Linked DNA regions of Homo sapiens: regions 1, 2, 4, 5, 6 and 7 are each linked to region 3. Evidence: fine-mapped expression QTL. A gene starts in region 3. Each other region holds a variant in brackets. All regions are shown on one strand. Distances are between the middles of the regions.

What was found. PIP is the estimated chance that this variant, and not a neighbour inherited with it, causes the effect.
Region 1: its variant is fine-mapped to the expression of SGK1 in tibial artery (GTEx, PIP above 0.99).
Region 2: its variant is fine-mapped to the expression of SGK1 in whole blood (TOPMed, PIP above 0.99).
Region 4: its variant is fine-mapped to the expression of SGK1 in whole blood (TOPMed, PIP above 0.99).
Region 5: its variant is fine-mapped to the expression of SGK1 in whole blood (TOPMed, PIP above 0.99).
Region 6: its variant is fine-mapped to the expression of SGK1 in whole blood (TOPMed, PIP above 0.99).
Region 7: its variant is fine-mapped to the expression of SGK1 in whole blood (INTERVAL, PIP above 0.99).

What each region holds. Positions count from the first base shown.
Region 1 is chr6:134,795,588-134,799,655 of GRCh38, forward strand. All of the region lies in intron 3 of LOC101928277 (a long non-coding RNA gene), which reads right to left. Among named protein-coding and RNA genes, the nearest start is that of ALDH8A1, 150 kb to the right of the region's middle. The variant C/T (reference allele first, on the strand shown) is at 2,364.
Region 2 is chr6:134,411,282-134,415,349 of GRCh38, forward strand. No RefSeq gene overlaps it. Among named protein-coding and RNA genes, the nearest start is that of LINC01010, 24 kb to the right of the region's middle. The variant C/T (reference allele first, on the strand shown) is at 2,132.
Region 3 is chr6:134,315,689-134,319,756 of GRCh38, forward strand. SGK1 (serum/glucocorticoid regulated kinase 1) reads right to left here and starts at 2,424. Exons shown (of 14, transcript NM_001143676.3): 1 at 1,704-2,424. The coding sequence starts at 1,772. RefSeq lists an enhancer at 1,972-2,251.
Region 4 is chr6:134,240,306-134,244,373 of GRCh38, forward strand. The region is part of intron 2 of SGK1 (serum/glucocorticoid regulated kinase 1); the gene reads right to left. Among named protein-coding and RNA genes, the nearest start is that of SGK1, 76 kb to the right of the region's middle. RefSeq lists enhancers at 547-606, 647-696. The variant G/A (reference allele first, on the strand shown) is at 1,904.
Region 5 is chr6:134,344,193-134,348,260 of GRCh38, forward strand. LOC105378009 (a long non-coding RNA gene) reads right to left here. Exons shown (of 2, transcript XR_943002.3): 1 at 4,004-4,068. Among named protein-coding and RNA genes, the nearest start is that of SGK1, 28 kb to the left of the region's middle. The variant T/G (reference allele first, on the strand shown) is at 1,886.
Region 6 is chr6:134,719,060-134,723,127 of GRCh38, forward strand. The region is part of intron 3 of LOC101928277 (a long non-coding RNA gene); the gene reads right to left. Among named protein-coding and RNA genes, the nearest start is that of LINC03002, 180 kb to the left of the region's middle. The variant G/A (reference allele first, on the strand shown) is at 1,944.
Region 7 is chr6:134,168,479-134,172,546 of GRCh38, forward strand. SGK1 (serum/glucocorticoid regulated kinase 1) reads right to left here. Exons shown (of 14, transcript NM_001143676.3): 10 at 3,715-3,838; 11 at 3,159-3,254; 12 at 2,545-2,700; 13 at 2,348-2,437; 14 at 778-1,957. The coding sequence ends at 1,790. Among named protein-coding and RNA genes, the nearest start is that of SLC2A12, 120 kb to the left of the region's middle. The variant T/C (reference allele first, on the strand shown) is at 1,983.

The DNA.
Region 1 (4,068 bases), 480 kb after region 3:
CAAAAAAAAAAAAAAGAAAAAAGAAACTGGAACTCTACCAAAGATACAAAACAATGAAAATAAGTCTGACCTTATTTTCAACAAAACATACTTTTTGAATTTGGTTGCCGGTAGAAATAGGAATGTGAAATAATCCTAAAACTTCCCAAGATTTTATACTACACAAGTTAGGTCTTTTTGCTTCCCCTTTAGAGATAAATTGCCTCTTTCAAACATGAATCCCTTTACTTCCAAGAGAATGAGGAATGGCTCTGAGAATCTCAGCAGTTTGGCTCTGAGACAATGAGCTGACTCTTTAAACAGTGGGAGGTGTCAAGAGAAGCCAACTTCAAGGAAATCCAACTTTTTCCTCCCAGCCTCCTCCTCCTGACATACTGATCCAAAAACACATAGGACCTGACCATTTGTAAGAAATGGTGTCACTAGAAAGTCAAATACTACATGTTCTCACTCATAAGTAGGTCTAAAAAATGTACACATGTGGATAAAGACAGTAGATTGATAGACAATGGAGGCATCAAAGTGAGAGGGAATGGGAGGGGGTGGGAAGAGGTTGGGTGATGAGAAATTACTTAATGGGTACAATGTACATTATTCAGGGGAAGGATTTTTTTTTTTTTTTTTTTTAGATGAAGTCTCTCTCTGTCACCCAAGCGGGAGTGCAGTGGCACAATCTCGGCTCACTGCAACCTCTGCCTCCCGGGTTCAAGTGATTCTCCTGCCTCAGCTTCCTGGGACTACGGGTGTGTGCCACCACGCCTGGCTAATTTTTGTATTTTTAGTAGAGAAGGGGTTTCACTATGTTGGCCAGGCTGGTCTCGAACTCCTGACCTCGTGATCCACCCACCTCGGCCTCCCAAAGTGCTGGAATTATAGGCGTGAACCACTGTGCCCGGCCTAATATCTTAAAGCCCTGACTTGACCACTACACAATCTATGCATGTAACAAAATTGCACATGTACCCCATAAATATATACAATTATTAAAAAAAAAAGAAATGGTGTCAGAAAATGGGACTTAGGAGAATGATTGGAAACTCCTTTTCTTACTTACTTATTGATTGATAATCTTTCTTAAATCACAAAGGTTCTGAGGTGACATTAAAAGTAATATATACACAAAAGAGTACAATAAAAATGAACACCAAGAAAGATATAAATCAGACTATATTGTTAGAATCAGAGGCAGAAAAAATAGGACTCCATAAGCCAAAAGGCCCAGAGAGATAACAAAGGTTGGTTTGCAAATTGTCTGAGTTCCCTGTGACCCAAAGTAAAAATGGAAATATTGTCAATGTCATTGTTTCCCCACATTGTTCATCAGAAGAAAAGCCCTGGTTTCCCAAACAAAGCAAAATATTTTCAGTATTTATCCATCTGATGCTGAGGATTATGATGGATGACTCCCCCCTAATATTAGTTGGGGAGGGCTCTTAATTGGCTATTTCTTGTGGCTTCTTTCAATAATAGGCAAAAGCACTACTACAAATAAAAAATAGAAATAAATAACTGGAGGCGGTGGCTCACACCTGTAATCCTAATACTTTGGGAGGCTGAGGCAGGCTGATTGCTTGAGCCCAGGAGTTCAAGACCAGTCTGGGCAACATGGTAAAACCCCATCTCTACCCCAAAAAAAATACAAAACTTAGCTGGGCATGGTGGCACCTGCCTATAGTCCCAGCTACTCAGGAGACTGAGGCAGGAGGATCACTTGGGAGGCAGAGGTTGCAGTGAGCTGAGACTGTGCCAATGCACTCCAACCTGGGCAACAGAGACAGACCCTGCCTCAAAAAAAAATAAAATAAAATAAAATAAAACAGAAACAATATATCTATATTTCTGTCAATTCAATTCATTCCTCTGAATCAATTTCATATTTGGTGATGAGTATAGGTATGTGTATTTCCAAAGCTGGGAACTGGCTTGGGAAGGGAGTAGTAGATGGACCCAGAATTCTAGAACCCAGGACTTGCTGGTAAGCATGTACAAACTCTTTGAGGAGAAAAGGCCTACTGTTGACAGCTTATCTAACACTTTGTCAAACTGCAACAGAAAGAAAATTCATAGCCATGGTCTGTGACTAAAGAAACCAGATCCCATTTTAAGGCCAAATCCTTATAACCTGTTCTTACTTATATGATTAGAAACCACCTTCGCCTTTCATCTTTTACAAAGCAAGTCATTCCTTTCTTTATATACAGACTAGAGATTGGATAACGTGAAAGATGACAGACATTGTCAAACTTGTCCTAGTCACTAGAGTGACTGATGGCCTCCTGAGAATGTCCAGACCTTCTGGCTTAGTGTAAATGTCTCGGGCTATAAATAAAACGTCAGCCTGGCCAGCGTAAATCTACTAAGGC[C/T]AAGAAGTTATTAAAACAGAACCATGAGACGTTACTCAATGAGCCCAGTCTGACACGTGTGGCTATGACTTAAGTCCTCATTTGAGTGCTAAACTAATGCCCCTTACAGACAGAAATATCTGTAAAGACTCTGTCACTGGAATAAATTACAAAATTCCTTTACTGCGTTAATACTTTGAAGACCTTTGAAATCAAGTTATTCGGATGAGTGCATGAAGTCCCAAAAGGGGATGGTAAACAGTGAAGATGTAGCAGGCATGGGGGTCTTACATCAGGAGAAAGAGAAAATAAAGTTTTAACAGTCCAAATAGGAAAACTGACATGGGGTAACAATTAATTATAAATATAGACATAACAAATTTAAATTTCTAAAATTCTATGAGAATATGATCATAAAGGAAGCAATAGATTTTAGCCTTCAAATTAACTTTCTGGTATTTGTTTTAGGTATGAAAAATTCCAGATGGCCACTTGAATTTATAGTAAAGTTACTGTATAAACTCTGGCACTTAAGCAAAATATTTCATCAATTATATATACTTAGAATGTATCATTTTGCAGGGCCAGGTGTGGTGGCTCACACCTGTAATCCCAGCACTTTGGGAGGCTGAGGCAAGTGGATCACTTGAGGTCAGGAGTTCGAGACCAGCCTGGCCAACATGGGGAAACCTGTCTCTACTAAGACTACAAAAATTAGCTGGGTGTGGTGGCAGGCACCTATAATCCCAGCTACTTGGGAGGCTAGGGTAGGAGAATTGCATGAACCCAGGAGGCAGAGGTTGCAGTGAGCCAAGATCATGCCACTGCACTCCAGCCTGGGACACAGAAGAAGACTCCATCTCAAAAAATAAAGTATCATTTTGCCATAAATTTGGAAATCTAATTTCATGAGAATTTATTGAAGACATTTTTTAAAATCCCACTGAAGTGTCAAAATATGTTTTTATAGTCACTTCAGTGTTAATTATATATTTTTATTTTGGCTGTGACACTAATTATCTTAATTAAATTTTTATCACTAGTGCTTATTTCAATGCATTAAATATTATACTTAATGAATGGAAAGTAGTTTAATATCATCTGAAATTCTGTGGAGCCTTTGTAAAGCTAATTTTTCTGCAAGGATGGATCTTAAAAATGCCTCAACCTGATAGATTTGTAGCCAAAGTAATGTCAGTTTAACTTGAACACTCAGCGACCCAAGAAGAGGAATACTTCTTTATTCCAGTAGCAGCTTTATTAGCCAAAAGAATATTGCCCTGAGTGTAATAAAATTCTTACTGTCCAATCAGGTCTTCAGCAATTCAGTTCATCCTCATTCCTCTTTCCAACTTTGCAGCAAAAAGAGTAACCATTAGATGTAGGTCTCCTCAGAGCCCAGCCTTTTCCATTCAGGGCTGGCATTGCTGAAACATCAGCACCTGTTTCTGCAGCGAAGTAAATAAGTGGATAGCACCTCCCTTCATAGCTCATTCTCCCATTTGTAATCACAGACTTGTGTGATTATTTAATCAATGCCTGTCTCATCCAACAGGACATATGTGACAAAAGGGTGAACACAGGGTCCAGGGTAAACACAGGGTCCAGCTTGCACACCGCTGTGCCTTGTACTGTGTCAGGCCCTTACCCACATAATAAATATTTGTTGACTGAAGAAATGAAAATTTAACTTGGGGAATACAATAACAAGCTTCATGATGCCTAC
Region 2 (4,068 bases), 96 kb after region 3:
ATCATAACATGCCACAGAAGCAAAAGGGCAAGTGAGCATGTGCAAAAGAGATCACAAGAGTGAGCCAAGCTTGCTTTTGTAACAATCTGGTCTCAGTAGAACTAACTAATTCTTTCATTAATGGCATTAATCCTTTCATAAGGGCTCTGCCCTCATGACCCAATCAACTCTTAAAGGCTCCACCTCTTAATATTGTTACATTGACAAGTTTCCAGCACATAAACTTTCGGGGGATACATTTAAATCATAACATTGCTATATACTGAAGACTGAAAACCAGAGGTCTACACACATCAGGTAATTTGAAAAATAATGAGCTGAATCAGGAAACCAGCTGGCCAGCAAGTATCCAGTGTGAAGAGGTGGTGGTCACGCCCTGCCTGAAAATCTAGAGGCTTTGTACCCACCACCTTCCCACAGCCAAAATGTGTGGTTGTCACCAAAAGAAACAGCTACATTGTGGCCCTTAGGACTAGTCCTAATTTGAGGCACCAGGGACTTTAAAAGCTGTGGTCAAACACTCACATCCCAAGCATTGAACTACTCAAAATGCTTCTTCAGCACTAATCCTGAGTTCTGATTCTGTTAACTGGGCTTGTAGCTATTCCAGACACCCAGACTGATGAGGGCCCCAGTCCCCATAAGGGTTCTTCATTTATTTCCAGTGCATAATGCCTTGCTTCCGAATCCACTTAGCCTTCAGTCCCTGTAATATTGGGGTGTTGCTTTGATTGTACCTGCTCTCCACTCACCCTGCAGGTACTAGAGTCCTTCTCTGAACCATACACAGAGGTCCTGTTCCTATTCCCTAATGACAGAGTTTCCCCAAAGCAAACAAAGTTCTTTGTTTACGAATTGACCAGCTCTTGAATTCTTTACTGCTTGTTAGGTCATCTGATGCCAAATGCTTACCTAGACTCCTGAAAGTTGGCTTTTGTCTACTTCCAGAAACCCCTCAGGTGAAGTAGTTCTGAAATTTTAGTGTGCATCAGAGTCCTCTGGAGGGTCTGTTAAAACACATATTACTGGGCTGCAACCCATGAGCTTCTGATTCTGCAGGCTTGGGGATGGGGCTAGAGAGTTTCCGTTTCTAATGTGTTCCCAGATGATGCTGGGACCTGCACTTTGAGAACCACTGCAGGCCTGCTAACAGATTGTTAGAATAAATGTTCTTTTTTCCAGGAGGTAAGCCTGTACCCATCCTCTAGGAAGCAAGACTGATTCATGGTCCCAAGGCCTCTGATTTTTCCAAATCTGATTTCAGTTTTTGAGGTCATATCTAGCCTGATGAAAGTTGGCTATATATGAACAATCTACCCTCTTCAGTATAGTGGCTATTTGACTGAATTCATTCATGAATTCCACTTTCAAACTACTTTGTAGATACAGATGCAGAACTATATTTTTTGCAGGATATTTCCTTTTGCAAAGAAGAAACAGGGCTGCTTAAAATACATTATGAAGCTAACCTAAATTACAGAGTCAGTAACATCATTGCCATTTCCTGAGCCTCTAGTATATAGCCAGCTGTTTCACATATGCATCATTCAAAGTCCTGGTAGAAAAGATATTCCATATTTCCTCTTGGTAATTTGATGAGAATTCAACAAAGAAACGGTTTACAAAGTGTGGGTAGGGTTTAAGGAAACCACAAAGGATGGCATAGCACCCCAGGGCGAGGAGGAGTGGGACCCTAGTGCTGACAGGAGTGAGGGTAGCTGTTTAGAAGAAGGCTGCCTGTGGGCTGGGCACAGTGGCTCACGTCTGTAATCCCAACACTTTGGGAGGCCAAGGCGGGTGGATCACCTGAGGTCAGGAGTTCAAGACAAGCCTGATCAATGTGGAGAAACCCAGTCTCTACTAAAAATACAAAATTAGCCAAGCATGGTGGCACATGCCTGTAATCCCAGCTACTTGGGAGGCTGAGGCAGGAGAATTGGTTGAACCCAGAAGGCAGAGGTTGTGGTAAGCCAAGATTGTGCCATTGCATCCAGCCTGGGCAACAAGAGCAAAACTCGGTCTCAAAAAAAAAAAAAAAAGAAGAAGAAGAAGGCTTCTTTTGTAGGCTTCTGTGCATGAAGCAGCTGACCCACTGCCTGTTTCTCCAGATTCTTTCAGCATCTACCCATTA[C/T]CCAATCCCATAGCCACTTCCACATTTTCAGATATTTATTCTAGCAACAACTTCACTTCTTGGTACCTGTTTTCTGTCTTTGTTTTCTGTTGCTATAACAGAATACTTGAGACTGAGTAGTTCATAAAGAAAAGACATTTATTTGGCTCATGGTTCTGGAGGCTGGGAAATCCAAGGGCATGGCAGCAGCTTCTGGCAAGGGCTTTAGTACCACATTGTAACATGCCACAAAAGCAAAAGGGCAAGTGAGCATGTGCAAAAGAGATCACAAGACTGAGTCAAGCTTGTTTTTGTAATAATCTGGTCTCAGTAGAACTAGCTAATTCCTGCATTAACAGCATTAATCCATTCATAAGGGCTCTGCCCTCATGACCCAATCAACTATTAAAAGTTCCACCTTTTAATATTGTTACATTGATAATTAAATTTCCAACACATGAACTTTTGGGAGATACATTTAACCTGGCAAGGAAGGAGCTTGGAGAGTAAATTTCTGAATCTCCCTCTTCTCTCAACTCTGATCATCCTCTGGTGCCTCCATGGGCATATCCCATAGAAAGTCAGGTGGCAAGAGAACTTGTTGAAGCCATTCATATGGGTCAACCTCCCAAGACATAGCACTTATCAAAAAGGGTAAAACAACCAAGTGAGGTGGCTCACACCTGTAATCCCAGTACTTTGGGAAGCCAAAGTGGGAGGATCACTTGAAGCCAGGAGTGTGAGACCAGCCTAGGCAACACAGTGAGACTCCACCTCTCCAAAAAATAATTTGAAAATTAACTAGTGTGGTGGTACACATTTGTAGTCTCAGCTACTTGGAAGGCTGAGGCAGGATAATTGATTGAGCCCAGGAATTTGAGGCTCAGTGAGCTAGCATTGTGCCATTGTACTTGCTCTGAATGGGAGACAGAGTGAGACCTTGTTTCTAAAAAAAAAAGGGGGGGGTGGGGGGAGCAGACATGGTGGCTCACACCTGCAATCTCAGCACTTTGGGAGGTCAAGGTGGGAGGATCACTTGAGCTCAGGAGTGTGAGACCAGCCTGGGCAACATAGTGAAACCTTATCTCAATTAAAAAAGAAAGACTAAAAAGAAGTAAGGAAGGAAGGAAGGAAAGAAAGAAAGAAAGAGGAAGGGAAGGGAAGGGAAGGGAAGGGAATGGGGAAAGAAGGGTAAAGTGTGAATCTGGAGGGATCCACACAACTTGTTACTGTTATGCAGACCTTTATATCAGCCAAATCAGGAAAACACTATTCTCAGCTTACAAGCTCTGAGGGGCTAGGTAGCCTACTTTGTTAACATGGCAAATAGGCTGTAGAGCAATTCACCAGTCCCCTTCATTTATCCTAACCCCATTAGAAGAAGGGGACTGAAGAGAAGAGACACCTCCCCAGAGAACCAGGGACCCTCCCCAGGTTCTGTGTTTCTGTCATCCTGGGAATGTTCAGCAGCATAGAGAGCTTCATAGCATGTGCTTCTGAGAAGCTGGGACTAGGCGGTGTGTTGTTGGGGGTTCTGGGTTTGTTGGGAGAAAGCCTGGCTTCCGATGCTCAGCGTTTCCTCTAATTGTGCAGCATCACTGCACAGACCAGAGGAAGGACATATGTATTCCCTGGGGTCTACGAGAAATAGCAAAAAGGCCTGACGTAGATTAAGCCTTGCTTCCTTCTTCTGGTACATTGGTACATGTCACTCCCTTCTTTGCTAGTCAGTCACTGACTTTCTGTGAATATCATCAACAGTCAGTCGTTATTTACCAAATGCTATCGTGTACAGGGCTGGTATGCAGGTCTCACATTTTTCATTGTAAATAATAGTACTTGTGAAACCTTTGGTTCGAAGATTTCGATCTTTGTCATCAATTACATCTCAGAATAATTTACTTGATGCTTATTAATGATTTCAGCATTCTTGGGTGAAAGGCATTATACATCTTTTA
Region 3 (4,068 bases):
TTAAATACTGGATAATGGGCTATGGCATTTTTAAAATTAGCAAAACATTTGTTTATTATTGAAAATTAGGGCTGGGCCTGGTGGTGGACATCTGTAATCCCAGCAATTTGGGAGGCTGAGGCAGGAGGACCACTTGAGCCCAAAAGGTCAAGACCACCCTGGGCAATATAGCAAGACCCCGTCTCTAAAAAAAAGAAAAAGAAAGAAAGAAAATTAATTTTCATAAAGGGCTCTTCCCTTGGAAAGAAATATTTTAGCTACAGAGAAAAACTAAGAAGCCTTGTGGAGCTCTGTGAAGTTGCACTGACTTGCTTTCACTTAGCTTGCAGCTCACTAGTGAGATTTCACATGGTACTCCCACTCCAAGAGCAGGGGCCAGGACAGGTTGGTTTCATTTTGGTTTGAATGCATATGCTTTGGCCCACAGACTTGGAGAAAGATTTTGCTTTACTGATGAGAACTCAGTCAAGGGTGCTTGGGAGCCTTCGCTGGCCCTCTAGCTGGGCCTGACATGTTGCCTGCATTTCTAGCCTTGCCTTCCCAGCTTGCCCATTTGGTGCAGGGAGATAGTCCAGCCCACCCTGAAATTCACTGTGTTCTGCGGATGAGTTAACTGAAGGGCTGTGTTTCAGGAGTGGCACAGAAAGGACCTGAATGAAAGGAAGGAGGAATGAATGGAGAGAACCATTTTGGTGGAATTGCCCTAGGGTATTAAATAGGATGGGGCAACTGGGGACTGGAGGATGTTCCTTCTCTTACGTTGCTTAGGAAACACTGTCCTTAAGAGTGTCAGTGTCATTCCTTTAACAATCATTCATTTCTTACCTCCCGCTTGTGTATAAATTTGCAGATTTACACAGACCACCAGTGTGGCCATCCCAGTGAACTGAGTTTATTGTGAAATATACATGCAAAAAAATCCTTTTTTCTCACCTACAACCAATGCAACATTATTCATACTTTGAGTTGAAGAATAAGGAGTTTAAGAAATAAATGCATACAGCAACATAACCCTGAATTATCACTCAAATACAGACCTCCCACTGCTCTCTCCCAAAAAAAAAAAAAAAAAAAAAAAAAAAAAGGCAGTTATTCTAAGCAAAAGCAAAAATTGAGGCAACTTAAAATAGACAATTTTAAATGCTGGATTCCATCATTTCTGTAAAAGGTCATTCTACTCCTTTGCTATTTATACCACAGATAGAGACACAGCAAATTATTGGCTGAATGGATTTGGGAAACCAGAAGCTGCTGCTTCTGACGAACGAAGATGATAATGCATCACTTGAGACTGAGTGGATGAAAGGTGTAGAAAAGTTGAACCCTTCAAAGATGAGAGGAAGCTGCTAAATTAGCCCCTGACTAAATTACTAGCCATAATTGTACTCAAGCCAGTTCTCTTTGCGACTGCCTTGTAATCTTTGTTGTGGCTTGAGAGAGAAAAATCCCCATTCCCAGCTCAAACCCGTTTAAGGCATCTCAGCCCAACCCCCTCCTCCCAATGCAACTCTTCATAGCCCCCTGCCCCTCCTCCAACAAATTCTAATCAAGTCAGGTATAGTTCTCAGCTTTACCACTGCCATCAGAAGCACGGCTTACATTAAGGGTTTAGCAACAAAACCTCAGGCTTACTTCAGGCAAACATTCAAAAGCATTTAAGAGAAGCACAGAAAACAAAAGAAATAAGCAAAACCTGTCCTTACCCGCTTCTTAAAAAATTGGAAGGCTGAGCATTTCTTGACTGGGAATCCATTCATGTCTTTGTTTACCATTTTCCACCGTGGGGAATTCACAGTTATAGATCCAGGTTGGCACCCGCCTGGTTAGTGCATATCTGTTTCCCCGGTTTACCTCCTGCAGACAGTTAATGAAGACTGAGCGGGATGGAGAATCTAGCGGGGCTCAGTTCTTCACTCGCGCATTCTGCAGCACCAGCTACTGCAGCAACCTCTCCCCACTTTCAGTTGCCACCGACAGCGGCTTTTCTCCTTCCATCATTGCTCCGAAACATATGCATCACCGCTGCAGGACCCTGGGGGCCGGACGGTGGGATACGGCCAATCTCCGGGGAGATGCTGTGGCTCTTACCGAGCGGGAGAAGGGTACGCCTCCCCGCCCCCAGCTACCTGGCTGCTCTTCCGCGGCCGGCGCGGGGAGCGAGTCGCTCTTCTCCAGGTGATGCGCTCCTGGAGGCGGCTTGAGAGAGGAGAGTTGTTTTTGATTGTGCAAGTTCCAGTGGGAGCTGTAGTTAAGCAGCTGAGAGAAGGAGTAAGAAAGAGCAGAAGCCAGAGGGAGGGAGGGAGAACAGCGCCAGAAAGGCAGAGGGAGCGAGAAGGCGAGGCTGGAAGAAGCAACGGTTCATGAATATCTGAGCAGCGGATGGAGAGAAGGCACAGCCGGCTCAGGGCACACTGAAGAGCAGTTGACTCCCCTTGGGAGGGTTACTTTAAATAGCTTCTTTTCTTTCTTTCTTTTTTTTTTTTTTTGGTTAGGACCATTTAAATCAGAGTTTCATATAAATTGCACACCGTTTTTATTTTATGCTCATTGACATTCTTTTGAATCCTGTTGCTGAATAAAAGCCTCTCAACGGAAATGTAATCACATTTAATCTCGACCTGTCCAAACGTGGAAGAAAATGAAATAAAGTGCAAGCGTAGGTATAACAATGGAAGATCTCTCACTATGTAGAAGCTCTTTTAGCCTCCCCTCCCCTACTTGTCATTATATAGTGGGCAATGGTGACGGTAATTGTGTCTTTTTCATTAAAACAGCTTATTAAAAAAAGAACACAATGAACATATACAAAGTACTTTATTACACACATACACACACACACGAGTTATTACCAAAAAGTACTACTGAATCCATTTAATGATGAGGAAGGTTTGATAAATAAAAGAGTAAAGCATTCTTCCTATTAGGTGAAAAATTTCCCAAAAAATCCTTACTCATGTTATCCTTTGCACACTGAGCTCCTTTTAAAAAAGCCATTTAATTGTATGTGGCTTATTTTTCCATTTTTATTCTTTAATGTTGATATTTTATGGGAATGATTTTAAAGATTAGTTGATAGTAAAGCAAGAAAGCAAAGAAAATAAACTTGGCATCTGACCTGGCAGAAAGCCACCAACATCGGTGTGTGGCTTTCTGCCATCACCTGACCTCACTGTGCCTTTCGGACACTGCCTCATCCATAAAATGGAGGCAGCCACTCATTCATTCATTCACTCATTCATTTATTTAGTCATTCATTATTTGCTATTTCATTCCATTAATAAATCTAACTCTGACAAGTGTCCTCAGGATGTGGAGCCTTTTCATAATCATCACAAGGGAATATAATTGATAAATAAGTGAAAGGCGCAATGCTAATTTGAAACTGATTATGACCTCATTATATATAACACACCTAACATTGTTAAAGTATTTACATGGAAGTCTCTGGTAAGAAGAGAAACATCAGGTTAAACTGGGAAAGAAATGCATGGGTTTCATTGAATTGGACTATAAATCTCTACAGTTGGGCCAGAGTTTTTGGGAATAAACATGAAATCCTGTTTGCTAAATGCCTTGAGGTTTCCAAAAAGAAAATGCAATACAACTAAATGATGGCATGATAACCAAGGGAAAACAACTATTCATTTTGGAGAGATATGTTAAGTTGTCCAAGATGCAAGTATATGTTATGTAATCTACAACATTGATAAGTTTTTGTGGTTCTTCTAAAGAGTTCATTTAAAATTATGGTAGTTCAAAGGGAATTATTTTGAGACGATGGAAGTGTTCTCTATCATGATGATGGTGGTGGTTACATAACTATGCATTTGTCAGAACTCATCAAATTTTATATAGGAAAAGGGAAACTTTTGCTGCATGTAAATTATACCTCAATGGACCTCATTTTAAAAAATGATGGTCATTCAAGTTCTTTCTTTTTCGTCCCATTGCCACTCCCCCAAAAGTGTTTTAACAGACATTTATTGAATTTGAGTAATATACAGGAGGGGACCTTTAAGCACTCTGCTAGGAAGGAGGTGCTGGGGCTTTGCTTAATCCCACATTGGC
Region 4 (4,068 bases), 75 kb before region 3:
AAAAAAAAGAGGGAACTGGAGAGTTTAAACACCTACAGGAGGAGGAATTTAGGATAATTGTAAGATCCAATAAATAACCATGTCAGTAGATTTATGGAGGAATGGAGCTAGAGATGTATAGTGAAAGAGTCTAAAAATATAATGTAGGGAAAGGCATTTTGGCCAGTTAAATATTGTTCGGAATCCTGGCTCTGCCGCTGAATATCCTGTATATTCCTGGACTTGTTAAATAATGTATTTTCCTCATCAGCAAATTGGAAATAATGCTATCTCTTACATACAGTAGTTGTGGAAATTAAATGAGATAATGCATGTCAAGTGCTGAAGATACTTATTGGTGCACAGTAGACATTCAAAAATGATATATTAGTTGTCATTATTCCTAGTACTGTTATTCTTGTTAGCTGAATAATGAGAACAAATATTGAAATTCCCCAGAATGGTTGTTTGTGAACAAGTAGAGAGAAAAACGATTACATCAGGCACCAAGATTAAAGGAAGTGTCTTCGAGGTTAGTAGATGATGACAGTGAGGGCAGAGGAAGGGTGGGTGTGGTTGAGCAAAGTTGGCGAAGTTCTTGAAAGTCAAGTTAGTGCCCGCCGAACTCTTGGCTCTGAGCCAGACAAGACTGGAGAAGAAGCCCTTTCTGCTTGAGGGCATCAGAGAAAATGTTTCATCTTTAGTAGAAAATCAAATCTCAATTAAGGCAGCACTTTCCTGAAGATGTTTCTTTTCTTTTTTTCTTTTTTTTTTTTTTTTTTTGAGACAGGGTCCAGTTCTGTCACTCAGACTGGAGTGCAGTGGCATGATCTCGGCTCACTGCAGTCTCAGACTCCCTGGCTCAAGCAATTCGACCACCTAAGCCTCCTGAGTAGCTGGGACTACAGGCATCCACTACCACATCCGGCTATTTTTTATATTTTCTGTAGAGATAGGGTTTCACCATGTTGCCCAGGCTTCTCTTGAACTCCTGAGCTCAAGTGATCTGCTGCCTTGGCCTCCCAAAGTGCTGGGATTGCAGGTGTGGGTCAATGGACCCAGGCTCTGAAGATGTTTTTTTCTTTTTAGAGATGGAGTCTCGCTTTGTTTTCCAGGCTGGTCTCAAACTCTAGGCCTCAGGTGATCCTGCCACCTCGGCCTCCCAAAATGCTGGTGTGAACCACCCTGCCCAGCCCAAAGATGCTTTTGGTCTGATCTATCTGGGGAATGCTGAGCCTCTCCCTCCTCGGAATTTGTAAGAGTGCACACCCAAATGCAGGCTCTACGAAGTCTGTCTTCCTAGATTGAAATCACATGTAGCCAACAAACTTGTTTATTTATTTATTTATTTTTTGAGATGGAGTCTCGCTCTGTCACCCAGGCTGGAGTGCAGTGGGACAATCTCGGCTCGCTGCAAGCTCCGCCTCCCGGGTTCAGGCCATTCTCCTGCCTCAGCCTCCCGAGTAGCTGGGACTACAGGCGCCCGCCACCACACCCGGCTAATTTTTTGTATTTTTAGTAGAGACGGCGTTTCACCGCGTTAGCCAGGATGGTCTCGATCTCCTGACCTCGTGATCCGCCCACCTCGGCCTCCCAAAGTGCTGGGATTACAGGCATGAGCCACCGTGCCCAGCCTTGTTTTATTATATGAAGTTACAATCCTGTGTCACAAGATGGGAGGGCAGAGGGAGGATTTTGAGGAAAGCTTAATGACCGAATGGTGTTTACTGTCAGGAGTCCCAGAGGAAAGGGAGAGAAGGGATTAATGTGGCTAAGTGAGAAACAAGATAGGCCAGAGACAAGTGAGGTTAAAACTGCATGAAGGGATTGAGCAAGTGGAAGCAATGACCAACGTGCTGGTGCTCATGAACCGCAGAGGGAAGAAAGGGAGCAACTAGGAATTTTGAAATTAGGAATAAGGCTG[G/A]GCGCGGTGGCTCACGCCTGTAATCCCAGCACTTTGGGAGGCCAAGGTGGGCAGATCACCTGAGGTCAGGAGTTCGAGACCAGCCTGGCCAACGTGGCAAAACCCTGTCTCTACTAAAAAACAAAAAATTAGCCAAGTGTGGTGGCACGTGCCTGTAATCCCAGCTACTCGGGAGGTTCAGGAAGGAGAATCGCTTGAACCTGGGAGGCGGAGGTTGCAGCGAGCTGAGATCGCGCCATTGCACTCCAGCTTGGGCAACAGAGTGAGACTCCGTCTCAAAAAAAAAAAAGAATTAGGAATAAGAGTGAGGGAAATGGGCAACTTGGGCCAGTAGCAGAGCTGTTTTGAACATGGGAAATTTACCCACAGTTGCTTTATAGTCCTTCAGACATTTAGAATTTTAAATTTTTTTAATTTAAATTTAATTTTTTTTTTTTTTAGAAATGGGGTCTTGCTATGTTGCCCAGGCTGGTCTCGAACTCCTGGCCTCAAACAATCCTCCCTCCTTGGCTTCCCCAAGTGTTGGGATTACAGGCGTGAGCCACTGTGCCCATCCTAGAATTTTTTAAATTTTCAAAACAGTAATCTGTCCTTGAGTGTGAACTAGATTGTACTGACAATCTGAATAGATATTTCAACTAATGGTTAAAAAACAAACAAAACACCCAAAACACATCTTAGAATGATTCTCATGTCTTCCAAATAAAAATACTTTAAAATGTTGTCAATACTTTTACCTATTTAGCTTATGCCTTTGGTTATAGAAAATATAGAATCAATGATAATGAATTAATAAGAAAATAAAAATAGATATTTCAACTAATGGTTAAAAAACAAACAAAACACCCAAAACACATCTTAGAATGATTCTCATGTCTTCCAAATAAAAATACTTTAAAATTTTGTCAATACTTTTACCTATTTAGCTTATGCCTTTGGTTATAGAAAATATAGAATCAATGATAATGAATTAATAAGAAAATAAAAAATATATTCCATCTTTAATATACTGATGGTTCAGTTTTATTTCTAAATTGTCTGAGATGGAAGTATATTAAACATAAATGGTGAAAGTATAATGGGGACAATTCATTATGTCCTTTGGAAACATTTTCATTGTAAATTCCAGTTGTATTTATTTTTTATTTATTTATCTATTTATTTATTATTATTTGTTTTAGATGGAGTTTCCCTCTTGTTGCCCAGGCTGGAGTGCAATGGCACGATCTCGGTTCACTGCAACCTCCGCCTCCTGGGTTCAAGCGATTCCCCTGCCTCAGCCTCCTAAGTAGCTGGGATTACAGGCATGTGGCAACATGCTCGGCTAAGTTTGTATTTTCAGTAGAGACGGGGTTTCTCCATGTTGGTCAGGCTGGTCTCGAACTCCTGGCCTCAGGTGATCTGCTTGCCTTGGCCTCCGAAAGTGCTGGGATTACAGGCACGAGCCACCGCGCCCGGCCATAACGTGCAGTTTTAAAGTATTATCCTTGATGAAATTAAATTGTTACCAATTTTCCAACCTGCATGATTCATTAACTCTGCACTAATGAATTATACTGCCTGACTTATTCCCAGGAAGCTCTAGATGTTGCTCATCAATCTATGGATAATTGTTGTTTGTGGTTTTTAAGCTCCATTGCATTTTTATCTATATAGATGGAGAATTAAGTCTTGATGTGACAAAGTTGAAAAATAATAAAACCAAAGTTCAGAAAACTCTAAACAATAGTTTTATTTATTTATTTTAATAATATTCATTTATTTATTTTATTTATTTTTAAAATTATACTTCAAGTCCTGGGATACATGTGCAGAACATGCAGGTTTGTTACACAGGCATACACATGCCATGGTGATTTGCTGCACCCATCAACCCATCATCTACATTAGGTATTTCTCCTAATGCCATCCCTCCCACCCCACCCCCTGACAGGCCCTGGTGTGTGATGTTCCTCTCCCTGTACCCATATGTTCTCATTGTTCAACTACCATTTATGAGTGAGAACATGCAGTGTTTGGTTTTCTGTTCCTGTGTTAGTTTGCTGAGAATGATCATTTCTAGCTTCATCCATGTCCCTGCAAAGGATAAGAACTCCTTTTTTTATGGCTGCATAGTATTCCATGATGTATATGTGCCACATTTTCTTTATCCAGTCTAACATTGA
Region 5 (4,068 bases), 29 kb after region 3:
AATTTTTATTTCTTTTATGAGGGATGGGGTCTTGGGCACTGTCACTCAGGCTGGAGTGTAGTGGTGAAATTATGGCCCACTGCAGTCTTGACCTGCTGGGCTCCTGAGCAACTAGGACTACAGGTGCACACCAACACACCTGGCTAATTTTTCAAATTTTTTGTAGGGTCTCGCTGTGTTGCCCAGGCTTGTCTCAAACTCTTGGCCTCAGGTGATCCTCCTGCCTCAGCTTCCTAAAGTGCTGGGATTACAGGCATTAGCCACTGTGCTTGGCCAACTACTAACCTTTCTTCTCCAAATTCCAGCTCCACATTTCTTTTTTCAATTTTTGAGACAAGGTCTCATTCTGTCACCCAGGCTGGAGTGCAGTGGTGCAATCTGGCTCACTACAACCTCTGTCTCCAGTGCTCAAGTGATACTCCCACTTTGGCCTCCGGAGTAGTTAGGACCACAGGTGTGCATCACCACACCAGGCTAATTTTTGTATTTTTTTTTTTTTTTTTTTTGGTAGAGACAGGGTTTTGCCATGTTGCTCAGGCTGGTCTTGAACTGCCAGGCTCAAGCTATCTGCTCGCCTCAGCCTTCCAAAGTGCTGGGATTGCAGGCATAAGCCACTGTGCCCAGCCCAACTTCACATTTTTATGTTACTGGGTTAGATTACTTTAACGCAGTTAAATTTAAAGTTTAACTTTTAAATTTTCATGTTAGAAATGATAAGCCGGGTGTGGTGGCACATCCCTGTAGTCCCAGCTACTCAGGAGGCTGAGGCAGGAGGATTACTTGAGCCAGGGGTTCGAGGCCAACCTGGACAACATTAACGTAGTGAAACTCCATCTCTAATATAATAAAAATAAAAATAAAAATAAAAATGATAGCCCAGACTAGGATAAAAAGATAAAGCTGCTCTCAGCCACAGGGAAGCACATCTTTTACATACACTCTTTTCCCTGGGCTTCAAGCAGAAGAACTGATAGAAGACAACTCCGTATTTTGCCACAGGTACAAGCTACATAAGGCGGATCCTATGATGGGAAGCTTTGTTTTAATTTTTATTCCAAAATCCTTTTATTCTCCAACTCAAATTTTCAATAGGCTGGGCGAGGTGGCTCACGCCTGTAATCTCAGCACTTTGGGAGGCCGAGGCAGGAGGATCACCTGAGGTTGGGAGTTCAAGACCAGCCTGACCAACATGGTGAAATCCCGTCTCTACTAAAAATACAAAATTAGCTGGGTGTGGTGGCACATGCCTGTAATCCCAGCTACTCAGGGGGCTGAGGCAGGAGAATCCCTTGAACCTGGGAAGCGGAGGTTGTGGTGAGCCGAGATGGCACCATTGCACTCTGGCCTGGGCAACAAGAGTGAAACTCCATCTCAAAAAAAAATTTTTTTTTCAATAGATAAACATGCATTTTGTTTCAACAATTATGGCAAGGCATTGGGCTGGCTATCAGAGATGCAGCAGAGAGCAAGACAATAAATTGGGTTCATGCCTTCCAGGAGTATAAAGACCAGTGGTGACAATTCTTGGAGAATGAGATGGACTCAGGAAAGTAAACGAGAATTGCACTAGGCATACCAAGCACCATGAAGGGAGCACTATATTTGGGAGCATATAATGAGTGCAATCCTAGACTGGGTGACAGAAAAGGCTTCCCTACAGGAACTGATATTTAAGCTGAGAGCTGGAGGATATGTAAGACTGAGCCAAGCAAGCAGAAGGAGGAAGCGTGTTCCAGGCAGACGGACAGCGTGAGTGAGTCCCAAAGGCAAGTGGGAATGGGGCATGTTCCAAGAATTCAAAGGAACTCCTGTGGCTGGAGAGGAGTGTAGGGGAGAGGCACACTTGGAGGCGAGGCCAGGGAGAAAGGCGGGTCAGTGAGGGAGG[T/G]CATTGGCAGCCACGTGATGCAGCCCTTTGCGTGCTGTTATGAAGACGTGGGACTTCAAAATTCTTTCCTTATTTTATACTCTAGGACAGCCACTGTCAGAGAGATTAACTGGCTTTTCTAAAATCAACTATCAGGCTGGGCATTGTGGCTCATCCCTGTAATGTCTGTAATCCCAACACTTTGAGAGGCTGAGGCAGGAGGATGGCTTGAAGCCAGGAGTTTGAGAACAGCCCTTGCAACCTAGGGAGGTCCTGTGTCTACAAAAAATAAAAACATTAGCCAGGTGTAGTGGCACACAGGTGTAGTCCCAGCTGCTCAGGAGGCTGAGGTGGGAGGATCACTTGAGGCTGGGAGGTTAAGGCTGCAGTGAGCTGTAATTGCACCACTGCATTCCAGCTTGGGGCAATAGAGTGAGACTCTGTCTCAAAAATAAACAAAATATCAAAAATCAAATGTCTGTATATTGACGGACCACTGTGTCTTCCTTGGGTTTCCCCAGAGCAGATCATTACACAAGGATTCAATTATTTGGGGGATTAGCTTACGAAACACCAGCAAGGAAAGGGCACAGGAAACCCAGTTCCTGTTTAGTTCTGGTTTGAAGGCCACGGTAGGGGTGGGGTGGGGATATTCATTGTCTGGCACTTCCAGTCTGCTGCCTGGGTGGGGACACTGGGTCCAGAGGCAGCTCTCAGGTGAAGGAATGCAGATGTGGAGAGTTGGGCATTTGGAATGGTGGTCTGCATGCACTGAGTGGCCAGGGCGAGGGGACACGGGCCGGGCACTGAGTTATCTGCTGCAAACAGTTCTATGGCTCTGATTCTGAGCCCCTACACCACACTACATTGGCTGGATTTGACTTGAATTCCACCTGACTAGCAGGTGAAAGATGCTTACTTGATGGTGGATAGAACCAGAAAAGTCACATAACATTCTAGAACTCTGTGCCGAGGCCCCGGCAATACCTCAGGTTCTAGGCCTCTGTCTCCTTCGTCACAGCATGCACTTCCCATAATTCTTTCCTTCACTTCGGAGTCTTAATACCAAAGGAAGACACGCCATTTTGAGCAGCCTATTAATTTGAAAGTGTCAAGTGTAACTAGGGAATAAATGAGACTCCTCAAAATGAGAGCTTAGTGAGGCATGAGGTAGTGAGCAAGGTCAAGCGCTTAGCTTAAAACAGCTGGATTAATTAGGGTAAAGTCTTTGGGCTTGGGATTTGGGGGCCTTTCTGACTCATGCAATTTTTCCAGAAATGAATGGGTCATATGTTTTGGGAATCTGATATTTAATGACAAGTTTTGGGGTTAAAAAAGTTCACAGTAAGTTTATGTTAGCAATAATTGTCCTTGGGGAGATTTTGCGGAGCAAGGGAAAGAGAGATGTTGGTTCTCCTTTCCTTCCTAGCTTTTTGCCCTCATCAAACATTTATAGCTGGAGGCCCTGTGAATTTCAATATCAACATCATGGTTCAGGTGCTCAAGGATTTCATAGTCTGTGAGAAGACAGACACACAGATAAACGCACACTAGCTAACAAGCCATGGAGCCCTGGGGCAATTTGTCAGCCTCTCCGGGCTCTGTTTCATTTGGAAGGACCTTGATGGACAAGTTCAGTGCTTCTCAACCTTGGCTGTTCATTGAAAGTACTTAGGGAACTTAGAAAGAACACCAGTGCCCCAGCTGGCCTCATGGCTCTGGAGTAAGGCCCAGGCGTTGGTATTTTTTTTAAAGGTTTTGCTAACTCTAAAAGTCCTTCCCCCAGTCTCCCCCAACCCACCCAGAGAGCCTGTACTCTGTTTAACTCAACAGAAGACAGGAGGTGGGAGGTGAAAATCACATTCCCTCCTCTTGGTCTGGTGAACACGTAGTGTGAGCGCAGTGGAGCTCTGTGTTAGGTGACCATATGCCAGCCGCCTCTTGGACTCTGAGTGAATAGCTCACCTCAATAGAACGCATAGAACACTCATTCCAGAAATAACAGGTGCCCACATTTTTCTTCCTTGGGAGACACATTCATGGAGCCAACAACTAATTATCATACCAAGAAAACAAAAACCGTGAGGGAGAGCAGAGGCGGGCTGGCAGCACCCTTGAGTTGTACAAACCGTGACTCACTGGTGTTCAAGGCTGAAGCATCTCCGTAGCATCTCTCTGAGAAGTATCCTGTGGTTATTTTGCAA
Region 6 (4,068 bases), 400 kb after region 3:
AGCCTCCCAAAGTGCTGAGATTACAGGCGTGAGCCACTGCGCCCGGGCAGAGCAGAAACTTTAAAGCCACCTATGAAGTATTTATTTATATTCTTTTCTTTGGAATTAAAGAAATCCCAAATATAAGAATAGGTTTTAGAGCTTCCATTGCAAATTCATTGCCAAGGGTAAAATATGATGGAGTAGTTTAAAAGGAACATCTAGTCAACTAGCCATTCTCTCCTCCAGGGAAGGAATTTCTTCTACAACACCTCGTGGCCAATAGACGTTTTTCTTCTACACAAACACTTTTAGTAACATGTGACTTTCTAGCCAACACCCAGCTGTTGGAGTGAAAAATCTAAAAATAGAAATTATTCAACAAAATCACTCCAAATTTGCTTAAATGCAAATAACCTGAGATGCTCTGTAATCCAAAACAACAGCTCCGGAAATAATTGCTGATACGTTTATTGATGCTGCAATATTGGGAGTTCCAAGGTAGAACCCTGTGGAAGAGAAGAAACTCAACCATCACCAGTCAATACTAGCAAACATATAAGCGGCACAGGCTACAAGTAAAGCTCTGAACAAGACACGAACTTGAAAGAAGCCAATGCCAGAAGCCTTGCTCTTGAGATGCTTACAGCCTGAGTGGTCAGGGCACACACACACTAACCCAAGGTCACACAACATTGATGCTAAACAAGTACCAGAAGAAATAAATCTTCACTCCATGTTTTGTGAACCCATTCATTTGTGGTTCCATTTTGCCTCCTACTCTTGTTTCCTTTTGCCTGGATGTTCTGAGCTTTTTATTTGTTTAGCCTTGCTGGATTATATGCATCTTATTCAGCAATTTAGAGATAAGGTGGAGGCACTACTCCGCAGTACAGCAAAGTAGTTAGGAGCTGAGATACAGCTTATCCACCAGTTTCTATAAAATGCCCATTCTGGCTCAGGGTCAACTGAGTTGGCCCTAGCCAACTGCTATGCCTTCTGAAAGTCACCACTCACTGACATCAGACTGCTTAGCTGCATCATATTCGCCTGGCAAATACTAATCTCATCACTCAAAATTCAGTTCCAAAAAACTGCACTGGGACTGAAGCAGGACTCTTTGTGCAAAAATAAACCAGGCATTTCAAAACATTTGAAATCAAATAGATGAAAATGTTGCAATATTACTTTTCAGACATTTGCTTTGTCTAATTTGCTTTTCATTCACTAGTTTACATTTTCTAAAAGGACTTGTATTTTTATGATGTGCATGACTTCCACACTGCCCACAATCAATGTCAAATGAAAGACCTAACTTGTTACCTAGTCCTCTGCCTACTAAAACAGTGCTGTCTAATCAGGCATCTCTCTGCGGAAACAGGCCTTCCTACAGCAGGAAGCAGAGGAAAGAGGACTGGAGACAGCAATCCCAGCGGCTTTTTTGCCAGAAAGGACAAAATGGCTCTTCTGGCAACTCCTGACTCAGGAAATCGCTGAATTAAGTAGTCAATCTGCAGAGTAATTTAGCATGTCATCTGCTTCCTGGCAACAGATATTTGGAAGCATTTTTATTTTAATTCATCTCTGTCATCATCAGGGTTATAGCTGCTTCTCTCTGAGGACCTCAAGGTCAGAGATGTGGGACCTCAAGGTCAGAGATTTTTCTGTAGTTCTTATAGAGCCAGTTCTTTGAGCTTCTTCCTGCCCTGTCTAGGCCCCAGTAGGCTCACTTCTCCTTTGATTTTGGTCAGGTCAAGCAAACCCCTGTCATCAGAGCTAAATATAAGTTGTATGTAAGTGGGTGGAGGCCCTTGCAGTGGGTTCCCTGGAAAATACACTTGTAAGTGTACAAAAGAATGAAGGTGCAATTGCCTGCCCAGGAGTTGCAGAAGCATCATTGTCTGTGGGAGACAGGAAAGGAATTAAGAGGTCAGCAACTCAGGCTCTCATTCCTGCTTCATCAC[G/A]GACTTTCTGTGTAATGTTGCACAAATAATTTTCCTTCCCACTCCTCCACTTCTCTATTTTAGGCGTGAACAAACATCAGTCATCTTCCTCACTTGCAGACATTAAAGAGAGTTAATATGAGCATGTTACAAACAAATAGCCCTAACTTCACACATTGAGGAGACCAGTAAACACATGCTGTGGGTGATCCTTCTTTATGTGGATAGAGCAATTTCTTAAAGCTGGTGAACATATGTGTCCACAAAATCCCTAAAAGGAATGTGTGTAAAATAGATGTACCAGGACCATGCAATTCTTATTGTACAAATGCATTTGCAGATTGTTACTATTTGGGAATAACGATGGCCTAATCCAGGTGAGGGTAATAATACATCAGGAAGGTAATAATTTTTATCTGGGGCAGAGGTCACTTTGCTCCTGTCTTAACAGGGGCTCTCTATGGCTTCGGCAAGAGGGCCCAAAAATGCATGTCCTGACATTGCAAATGGCAAAACAGAGATCTCAACCAAATATTCATGAAGCACTGTGTTTGGAGTCTCCCAGCATCGAGCCCCATATCTTCAAGAAAAATCTAAACTAAGCTTTTTACATACCTTTATTGCCTTTGACCCTCACAGCAACTCTGTTAAGTCAACAGAATTATCCCAATTTCACAGATAATGAAAATGAAGCTTAAGAAGGCCAAATAATATTTCCATAGATCATATAGGCATTGAGGGGTGGGACTGGGATTTTTAATCTGTCTGATCCCAAAGTCCGTCCTCTCACCCGGTTTCCATTAGATGATGCTATCTTCCATGCACTGTATCTTTTATGCTCTATATGCCTAAGTTTTCTAATCTATAAAATGGGAATAATAATACCTAACTAATGAAAATCAAGAGATTACCTATATGAGGGCATTTTACAGAAATGTAAATTGTTATTCTAATAGTAATTCCACGTTCATCTCTTCCACTGTCAGCCTCATTATTATAAACACATGTGAAAAGTTTATACTAGGCCAGTTATATGGACCTTGCTTGGCACATAACTGAAATGTAACTTTACATTTCATTGACTTTAAGGAATTTACATATTTTAACCCAGTTCAACTATATTTTGAGGTGCTGCATCTCAGGAGTTCTTGTAGATATCTAATTCCACATTAATCATTGATCTACCTTTATATTATTGCTTCAAAAGTCTTATTTAAAAATTCACATATTTTTAAGCACTGTCATATTCTTTACGAAAAACCTTGCATGGAAATCAGATGGTAGCTAAGTAAATGTGACTTCAAATTCATGGATAAATATCAAAACAGGAGACTAATGGAATACATAGAGAGATCTGTTCATGCCCTGACTTTCTTCTAATTGTCTGTAATCCTGACCTTCCCAGTAGACAGAGAGGAATAATATACTCAGAACTTGCCCTGCCCTTCAGGAAACATGGGTAAAACCTAAATAAAGATTGTTTGTGTATGATTATAAACAATTTGCTATTCAAATTCAATAATGGCACTCGGTAGGCAAACTATCCTAAAAACTTTCCTATTAACAACTAAATTCCAAAGTTTAGCATTGCAAAACCACATAATTTGAATACATTTTTGAACCATCTGATGGAAAATTATATTGATTCCACATGTGTAGAGCTTGTAAGTAGCTCAGTAATTCCTTCACTCTTTTCAGACACAAAGTAACGGCCTCTTTAACGGCCTCTTTTTCTTTCCCTCATAGAAAAGTAGGCTATTTTTCCAGGGTCGGGAGAATGTGGAGGAGGGAGGGCTATAATGAAAGTATGTAATTCACTCAGGACTTGTGGGGCAGTATTAGAGATTATGGAAAGATTTGCTTCACAGAATACAGTTCCTGTGGAGAAAAAAGAGTCCCACTACATCAGGAATTAGCACACAGCCATACAACAAGCTGAACTTTTTGTTATTTTAAAAAATCTTCGAGTTATACTGTATGCTTTTCTAATACTGATAGAAAACAGTTTCAGCAAAGTGCACTAAATAAATAGAACAGTGCCTTACCTTTAAAAAAAAAATCTATATTCAGGAGCTATTCTCCTTCACATTTTGAAATTCTTTAGCTGGAGAAATGCTGGGTCATGAGACACAGGGTCATAGCATCT
Region 7 (4,068 bases), 150 kb before region 3:
CGAGACCAGCCTGGCCCACATGGTGAAATCCCATCTCTACTAAAATACAAAAATTAGCCAGGCATGGTGGTGCATGCCTGTAGTCCCAGCTACTCAGGAGGCTGAGATGGGGGGATCACATGAACCCAGGAGGCGGAGGCTGCAGTGAACCAAGATCACACCACTGCACTCCAGCCTGGGCGACAGAGTAAGACCGTGTCTCAAAAAAAAAAAAAAAAAAAAAAAAAATTCTCACCCTCTTGTGTGGCATTCTCCTAAACTTCACAGACTATTTCTCAATTTCCATCTCAACTAACTGCTTTAGGTCGGCCTTCTTCATCAGGCTCTGGAAGGGCGAAGTTGTCTGCTTTGTCCACTACGATATCCTGAGCACTCGCAATAGAGCCCAGAGTAGGCTTTCAAATATTTCTGGAAAGAATTACCTGTAACTGAAGACAAGCCAAATGTCAGGACAAATAGTCCAACTTCACAGGACAGGCAATAAATACAGGAAGCATTACTTCATAGCAATCCTTGCAAGATGAGTAAATTGCAAAGGATTTCCTTGGATGGATTTATGAATGACAGACACCATAAAATGCTGCTAAAAAGGCCTGGAACGTAGGTTGGCTTTAAGACCATCCTATACTCCCCTGGAGTCAGAAACCACTGCTGTTGGGAGCAAACCACTAAGCAGGAAATTACAGCAGGATTTTCATGGTTTTCAATTTTAAACTAACCCATGATTACCCCCTTAACCAAAATATACAAAATAACACATGACACAATATATGTAAATATTTTTCAAGGTTTTATTGCAAACCAAAATCAGTTTATCACACACAAAAAAAGTTGTGTGATGGGATGAGGGAAGGATTGTACGTATTATAACCATGTTAATTACAGTACATTAAAATGGTGGTTTACATTACAAATAAGCCTGTAAGTTTAAATATACTAGTGTTATAACCCAATGTACAGACGTTCTTTATACAATACATACAATTATCAGGAATGCAAAAAAAAAAACATAAATAATGCCCATTTTACAGGTGACATTTTAAACAATGAAAAACACCAACGGCTCTGACTGACAACTGGGGCATTGGTCCATAAAAACCCTTTCTAAAAATAGAAATATTTGTAGCAGCAATGCTTTCTTTAAGCATCTGAATACGAGTCATTGCAAGACCATTTCAATAAATTTTAGTTATTAACCGTATCTTACAAAAAAGTCTACACATAAATTTATCTTCCAAATATGGAAGAAACAAACAATGTCCCACGTTGTAGTGTCCTGCAAGTGTCACATTGATGCTTATAACAAAATCCATCTGTGATCAGGCATACCACACTCACACGACGGTTCACACAGCATATCCACAAGGGAAAATAAAGAACTGAAACACTGCGATAGGAAAAGCTTTGGAGCTAACACAATCTCTTCAGAAAAGGCACATTTCATAATATTCGTCATCACAGCCCAGACAGATCTGCAGGAGACCTTTTTTAGAACAGCGTCCGCTTTCTAACGAAACTCCTGCCTCCGTCTAAGGCGGCACTCTAACGCTCGTTTCAGAGATAGCACCACGTTGGAAGGAAGAATAAAAATGAAAACCTCATGAGCTCACTGAGGAGAATGTGCTCTTCAAAAAGCTTCCAGCGAACAGTGTGCAATAAGATTGCTAAGCTTCCAGAGATGTGCAAATTCTCTTGTAAGATGTCCTGTCAGCTGGCGGCTCCACCAAAAGGCTAACTAAAACATTCGGAAACACACATAAAATCCTTTAAAACCAAGCCCTAACAGGGTTCAGAGGAAAGAGTCCGTGGGAGGCGCATAGGAAAAGCCTAGGAAAGCCTCGGCAGCTTCCTTGACGCTGGCTGTGACGAGGACGCTGTCAGGGGACTTGCCAATGGAGTTGGGGACAGGCTCTTCGGTAAACTCGGGGTCAAAGTGCCGTAGGTCGTTGGGCCCACTCTGTGACGGGAAGGGAAAAACACTC[T/C]TGTCAAGAACTCACACTAGACACAGGACAGGGAAATCTTGACCAGGCTTTAAATACCAAGTTTAAGTCTTATATCAACTTCCATAATCACCCACTTCAAGCACAAAATCTCAAAAGGCTACACACAGTTAAACATAAGAATAATGTTCACTTGTTGCCTTTTGGTGCTTCGAATTGATAAATGTGTCTAAAAATTATGGGAGCCTTGTTGGGACACAAAAATGTGCTTTTTATGTAGGTAAAATAACAGGTTTATGGAGAAAACATCTGCCAATGTATTCCTTCCAACCCTCCCCCAGACAATTCTGAATTAAAATAAATGCCCTTTGGGCTTCTCTATACTTAGAAGAGAGACAGATACTCACCACATTTGGGTTAAAAGGGGGAGTAATCTTCTTATTAATGAGATCATCCCAGTTAATTAAGGAGAAGAAGACATGACTCTTAATCTCCATCTGTTGATAAGAAACCCAAGATTAATTTAGACAGGTGCATTCAATAAGGGCAGGGAGGTCTAGTGCACGTCCCGGCCGGCCCAGGAGGACAGGAAAACATCACTCACGAAGTCATCCTTGGCCCCGAGCCGCTTTGTCCTGTCCTTCTGCAGGAGGCCCTCCAGGAGGTGTCTTGCGGAATTTGTAATATTTGGTTTCAGCTGGAGAGGCTTGTTCAGAATGTTGTCGTACATTTCAGCTGTGTTTCGGCTATAAAAAGGCGGCTGAAAGAAGGGGAAAATTACTTTAGACTTAATTGGAAGTTTCATATGGCACACATTACCAGTAGAGAAAAAGATATAAACGGCAATAAATATTAGGCTCGATTTGAGAAACTCTCCCCACCTCAATGCTTTCTTTTCCCTTGCTATTTAAGTGTCTACTTTGCAACCCGTGTGTGTGTTTGTGTGTGTGTGTGTGGAGGGTGAGGGGGTAGATGTTAATAAGTGGTAGTTTTTCACCACCACACAGGTTCAATGTGGTCCTATCTAGTAAAATGTGAAATGCACAAAAGAACCAGGTAAGTGATTATTCTTATGAACTATAAAATAACCAATATGCCTCTTAGCTGCTTTTGATAAGCGTACTGGTAAGGGCAAGACACCATGGCCAAGCATGGGCTGTGTGAAGGCAATATTGTAGGGAGCAGGCAGTGTTCCATGGTTCCCAATGTGCCACTCACCAGGCCATACAGCATCTCATACAAGACAGCTCCCAGGCACCACCAGTCCACAGTCCTGTCATAAGGCTGCTTATGAAGCACCTCAGGTGCGAGATACTGAAAAACAGACCAGGGAAACAGCGTTTAGAACCTGCGAAAGCAAGCAATCCCACGACCACACATTTAGTTTGAAAAAGCTGAGAGACCCAGAGCCAGCTTGGAAGATAGATATCTTTAGATTCCTTCCTGATAAAACTGCTGGACTTTTTGAGGGTGACTGGCTACCTATGTGTACTGACATTTAGGAAACTGCTGGGCACTTGATATCTCTTACTTAGGGATTTAGAAAGTTTTTATGATGCAGATCTTACTTACAAACAGCTACTTTTCAGTAAAGGAACAGAAGGACTTGGGATTTCTCATGCTACATCAAACAGCAAATGTATTTTATTTGCACTGAACTGTATTAAGAAGTCTCTGAGAGGAGTTTACTCTTTTTGGTAGTTAAGTGCATGATTGTACATCTCTCTCTTGGAAGGCGGGGGTAAACCAGGCACCAAACCAAGACAGCGCCTACCTCCGGCGTGCCACAGAAGGTGGATGTTGTGCTGTTGTGTTCAATGTTCTCCTTGCAGAGTCCGAAGTCAGTAAGGACAATGTGTCCCTGTGAATCTAGCAAAATATTCTCTGGTTTTAAGTCTCTGTAAAAAAGTGAATAGAAAAGTAGTTGCACAAGTTAATTTCACTTCATAAGATATCCTCTTAAAGATAATTGCTAAAGGTATTAGAGGCATTTTAGGTTCACTGTAGTTGTGTAGTGAAGAAAAAAGGGAGCCCTTGTTCTGCTCATCTATTCTGGATTAGGCACAATCCTACTTGGCTGGTTCCCCCTTGGCACTTAAGTCAAGCCAGCTCACGTGCTAGGGGATCT